Linked DNA regions of Homo sapiens: region 1 is linked to region 2. Evidence: fine-mapped expression QTL. Tissue or cell type: thyroid. Region 2 holds a variant in brackets; the other region holds the start of a gene. All regions are shown on one strand. Distances are from middle to middle.

Region 1 (2,902 bases), 31 kb before region 2:
TGGGCATGGGCCCCTTGTAAAGGAAGCCGATTAACAGCCACGGGAAAATCCCTTTACGTCTCCTAATTAACCTGGGCTGGAGACTCACCACCTGCCCCTGGCTTTCTTCCTTCTTTTATCTAGGAAGAACTGAGTGCTGCCTCTGCTAATGAGCTTGTCTGTACTAATCAAGCAGGTGCCCTGTCCCCCATCCCCTCTTGGCAGCCGGGAGTGGGGAGGATTGTCCTTCTGATGTGAGCTCTGGGCCCGCAGAGGAAAATCAGATCTATCATAATAATGGCCATGATGATGAGAATGATAATGTTGACACTGACTCCTTTAAATGAGTTCCGACTTCCTAGGTCAGGGGCTTTGTATGTGTTATTGGGGACACCAGGTGATGTGCAATGCCTTCCATCTCTCAGATGAGAAAACTGAGGCTCAGGGAGGAATAAGGGACTCGCCCCAGCTTGCACAGCTAAGGAGCGGCAGAGCTGGGATTCTCAGCCAAGACTCCATGACTCCAGAGCCTTCCCCAAATCTGTCTTTTCATCACCCCACGCTGCCTTATTGACCATTTTCAAAGAGTTTGACCCACTTTTTCATGGAAAACTGAGATGGCAGAGCAAGTGGCTGGTGTGGTGGGGGCTGGGGCGGAGCCAGGACTCCAAGCCACCCTCCCAGGTGGGCAACCCCCCATATCCCCTGTCCTCCCAGCGTGGTGGGGAAGCTTGAAGGCATCTGAGCGCTGCTGGAGGCTCCCCCACATGCTCCCAGCATGACTCATTCATTCGGCTTAGCCCCCCGTGGCTTTGCCCTGGTTGGGGGTGGGGCGCCCAGGAGGATCAGTGGTTTCTGGGATAATAGGTACTGGGGCTCCGTGTGACCTGTGACCTCCCTCCGCACTCTGGCTGCGTCCCTGCCCCTGGATGGAAGAATTCGACCACCTAGTACCCGGCCCTGCGCAACACCTCCGCTCCGTCACTGCCTGACCCTGCGCTGGGAACTCATTCCCGGGACCGCCAGGGAATCTGCCCTTCCCAGGAGAACTCCTGGCTGCCTCCGCGTGCTCCTAGGGCCTGCGCGAAATGGGAAGGCGCATCCTCTAGCCTGGGTAAATAAGGGACCCTGCCTCACCCGGGTGGCCATCCCCAGGCCGCCTTCGCTGTGTTTCAGGTCACCGCACCCAGCCTGCGCACCCCTAGCCCCCATCCCGGTGCCGTGCAGAGGCTCTGCACACAGCCTCGGCCTCCCGGAGGCCCTCCCCTCTCTCCTCTCCCCTCTCCCACAGGCACTCCCTAGCTGTGCCACATTTAACCCGGGACCTCCTGTCCGCGCTCAGTCTTGCAGTCTCTGGCCCCGGCAGACACCACCTCTCCAGAGGTCGCTGCCCCATCCCGGTGACCCTCCGCTGGCCTCCTCACCCCTCGACCTTGGCAACTCCTACCGCTGCGCCCCAAGACGCCGGATCTAGCTGGGCATCCCCTCTCTGCATTGCGCACCCCTCCCGCAGCCCCTGTACCCGCGAGCGCCCGCGACCCCCGGCGGGCTCCCGGAGCCTCCCGGCCGGGCGCCCTCCCCCGAACCGCCGAGCAGTGGCGCGTCCCGCCGCCTACTGGCCGGGCTGCCGCCTGTGCCCCGGCTCCCGGGCGGCCCCTCCCCCGGCCGCGGCCCCGCCCTCCGCTCCTCTCCTCCTCCTCCTCCTCCTACTCCTCCTCCTCCTCCTCCTCCCCCCGGCGCTCGCTCGCTCGCTCACTCTCTCGCTGGCTCGAGGGGCGGCCGGCAGATGGCGATGGCAGAGGCGGCGGCGGCGGCGGCGGCGCGACCGGGATGGGACGGGCGCTGGGGCGCAGGAGCCGCGGCGGCGGCGGCGGCGGGGGCCGCGCAACTCGGGCCAACTGCGGGGCAGCCGGCCAGGGCGCGGGGCGCTGAGCCTCGGCCGCCCCAGCTCCCCAGCCACGCACGGCCGAGCCCAGGAGAGCGCGCAGAGGCGCAGCCGAGGAAGCGCCGCCAGCGCCGGCGCATGCGTCTGGGGAGGAGCGGCGCGCTGGGAGCGAGCCATGCCCGGCGCCCGGGCGTAGCCGCCGGGGGCTGCTCCGGGAGCCGCGGGCCGGGCCGGGCGCGCGAGAGGAGCAGCCCCGCGCCGCACCCACCGCGCGCCGAGGACCATGCCGCCCCCGGGCCGGGCGCCGCCGCTCGGGCTCCTGCTGGCGCTGACTGCGCTCCAGTGCCCAGGTAACGCGTCCCCGGACCCCATCCCCGACCCCGGCCGAGGCGCACAAAGTTGGGTGAACGGGCGGCTACCTCCTTCTCAAGTCCCTGGCAGCGCGCATCTCCCGGACTTGGACAGACCTGGGGAGACCCTGGGAACCCAGGAGCCCCCGGCGCGTTCCCCTTTGCCTAGCGCCTGGGGAGAGCCCGCCTGCCTTCTCCCCCAAACCCTTAGCTTCCTTGCGGATCCTTTCGGGACGCACGGGGGCCACAGACCGGGGCACTCAGCCTCTCGAGGCGGGTGGGGACGCGACTGCAGGAATCGAGCCCCCTCCCCGCCCTGCCTTGGGCCAAATCCCCCCCAGGTCCCAGTTCCTCCAGGGGTTTTGCTGGGCGGGGGCGTCGACGCAGCCCTTCTCCAGTGTCTTGCTGCCCGCGGTCGCACAGTGGTGCGTTCCCGGGACACCTGCGGGCCCCGGAGATGTCTCGGCCGGCGCTGTCTGGCTTGTCCGCAGCCCCTCCCCACGCCCCGCGGCCCTCCCCTGCTTTCACACTGCCCTCCCCAAGCTACCCACCCTCGCCAAATGGCCTCCTCTTGGCCAAAGAGCAGCCCGCTGCGCGCCTCCTGCAAACGCGGTCTACTCCAGCGCCCTGACCCCAAGGCGGGCGGGAGAGGGTAGCCGCGGCCAAGCAGTCCAGGACGCGCCGGGGA
Region 2 (2,902 bases):
TTCACCATGTTGCCCAGGCTGGTCTTGAACTCCAGACCTCAGGTGATCCACCCGCCTTGGCCTCCCAAAGTGCTGGTATTACAGGCGTGAGCCACTGCACTGGCCCTCTTTCTTATAAAGACCCTTACACTGGGTCCACCTGGATAACAGAAGGTAATCTCCCCAGCTCAAGAGCCTTAACTTGATCACAGTCTCTATTGCCAGGAGGGCAGTGTTCTAGGGATTAGGACATGCACATCTTTGGGCACCATTATTCTGCTTACCACAGCCATCTTTATCTGCCCCTTCTTAAGAATCTCTCTGCTCTTTGGCCTCTGAACTTGGGCATCCCTGGAGGCCTTGATTCCATCTGCCTCCTGTATTAGTTTGGGCTGCCATAAGAAAATACCACACAGAGTGGTTTAAACAACAGAAATTTCTTTTCTTACAGTTCTGGAGGCTGGAAGTTCAAGGTCAGGGTGCTAGCAAGGTCAGTTTTTGGTGAGGGCTCCCTTCCTGGCTTGCAGATGGCAGCCTCCTCTCTGTGTCCTAAAGGTAGAGGGTGGGTGGGGAGGCTTGAAGCAGGGGAGAAGCTCTCTCATGTCTCCTCTTAAAAGAACACCAGTCCTGTTGGATCAGGGTCCCACCCTTATGACCTCATGTGACCTTAATTACCTCCATTAAGGCCTGACCTTCAAATATAGTCACCTTGGGCATTGGGGCTTTCACATGTGGCTTGGGGAGGTGAACACAAAACTTCATTTTGTAACACCTCTCTTCCTCTAAGCTTTATTCTCCAGCCCTCAGCCTTGGAGGCCTTCTTTGTGTCTTTGTTGAGAAAATCAGTGCTGAGATGTCTTTTCAGCCTGGCATTGCCCTTGGAATTACTCCGTTATCGTGGCCTGATTCTCTCTGCTCTGTGAGTGTGGGCAAATTGACAGGATGTTAAAGGATGTTCAAGAAAAGGTCACTGATAACAGGCCTTTGATTAGTTCCTGAGAAAAGGAGTCAGTGATTCCTTTTCTGAGCTGGAATGGTTGGGGAGTGCAGCCGTGGGGACTTGGAGATCCTTCTTCCTGCCAGAGACTCCACAGATGTCTGGACCCAGGGGCTCGGGTGGGTCCACGGAGGCAGCAAGCTGGCCGGAGGCATCGAGCAGCTCCTCCATTATCCGCATGCCTCCTGCGTGGCTGGGCAGGATGCTGTGGCCACTGGCTGCGATCTTGGCGCTTCACAAGCTGGAGCCGTCAGGCCCTGAGCCACTCGGCCGCGCAGATGCCTTCCCTGTATGCACTGGCTTGTAATTAAAACTCAACTTGCCAGTCTGATTGGACTAAGCAGTTAAATTCATCTGGAAGAGTTTTTCATCTGCATTGTGTAATTAGCAACATACGATGCTTGTGTTAGCTCAATTAAAAGTTATGGTGATTAATATGGGTATCAAAGCAGAACCGTAAATCAACAGATTCAGGGCACTTGGAGTTCATGGGCTGGGAGGCAGAGAGCCAGCTGCAGGCCATACCTCAGTGGCAGCTAGGCAGGAGGGTGGGGAAGAGAGGCCAGGCTGGGGGCCGGGTACATGGCTGGGTCACTCACTCTCCTCTCTGAGCCTCAGTTTCCCATCTTATATATTGGG[G/A]TACCAGTACTTTTAGGTCATTCTGAGTTTCAGGGCCTGGGATGGGGTATAGATGTAGAAAGTGTTCTCTTTTGCCTATATACTCCTTCGCTTAATTCTTTGTTTGTTTGTTTTGAGACAGGGTCTTGCTCTGCTGCCCAGGCTGGAGTGCAGTGGCACAATCTCAGTTCATTGCAGCCTTGACCTTCCAGGCTTAGGCGATCCTCCCGCCTCAGCCTCCCGAGTAGCTGGGACTACAGGCAGGCACCACCATGCTTGGCTAATTAAAACAATGTTTTTTTATGTAGAGATGGGGGTCTCACCATGTTGCCCAGGCCGGTCTCAAACTCCTGGCCTCAAGTGATCTTCCCTCCTTGGCCTCCCAAAGTGCTGGAATTACAGGTGTGAGCTACCACGCCTGGCCTTCCTTCCTTTAATTCTAAATGCACTGACAGGCATTATGTATCAAAATTAAAACGTCCATGCCTTGAACCCAGCAATTGCGCACTGAGATGTTTATCACACAGATAAATTTCCACGTGTGCAAAATGTCTTAATAATGACTGCAGCAGTTGTTCGTAAGAGGAGAGATTTGAGGATAGCCTAAACTGATTAAGCAAATTATGACATATCCATGCAGGGAAATATTTTGCAGCTGTTAAAAAATGAGGCGGGCCAATTTTAAGGGAGATGGAACTGTAAGATGTGCTTTTAATGCATAAAGCAAGATGTAGGGAGTTAGTACTGCCAAGTGTGGACAAGAGAACAATACACATGTATATGTTTGCAAATAGGTGGAGCAACACCCTAAGGAGTCCTATAAGACTGGGGGAGTTGGGTACCTTCTGGGAGGGTAATGGATTGCCTGGGGGACAAGGGATGGGAGGTGATAATGTTGTATGGTGTGCTTTTGTATTCTTCGAATTTCATGCCATGTGCATTTTTTAACTTAAATTATATAATAAAAATATTTTAAAAGAAAAAAAGGCAAGCTCTCAATCGTCCTTTCCCCTTAAAATGAGAAAAAAGGGCCTATTTTAGTATTTTCCATAGATTTTTGTCTCTTTGTCCTTGTGACCGAGAGCTTCCAGAGCTATTTTTCTTTGCTGTGAAATTGTAATGTTTTGTATCTGGCTTCTAGATTTCCAGTGCAGAAATGAAATCTAAAAATCTCAAACGCCCACGACATGGCATTCTGGGGTAGGAGGGAAGAAACCCCCACCCTGGCTGTATTCTGCATTGTCGGTTGTGACTCGGATTTGGTTGTGGATCAAGATTATGAGTACAAAAAGGTCAGTGTGAACTGTT

What was found. PIP is the estimated chance that this variant, and not a neighbour inherited with it, causes the effect.
Region 1: TMEM132B starts here. The variant in region 2 is fine-mapped to the expression of TMEM132B in thyroid (GTEx, PIP above 0.99).

The regions. Positions count from the first base shown.
Region 1 is chr12:125,184,653-125,187,554 of GRCh38, forward strand. TMEM132B (transmembrane protein 132B) reads left to right here and starts at 1,734. Exons shown (of 9, transcript NM_001366854.1): 1 at 1,734-2,214. The coding sequence starts at 2,148. RefSeq lists an enhancer at 935-1,468 and a silencer at 1,517-1,726.
Region 2 is chr12:125,215,736-125,218,637 of GRCh38, forward strand. The region is part of intron 1 of TMEM132B (transmembrane protein 132B); the gene reads left to right. Among named protein-coding and RNA genes, the nearest start is that of TMEM132B, 31 kb to the left of the region's middle. The variant G/A (reference allele first, on the strand shown) is at 1,616.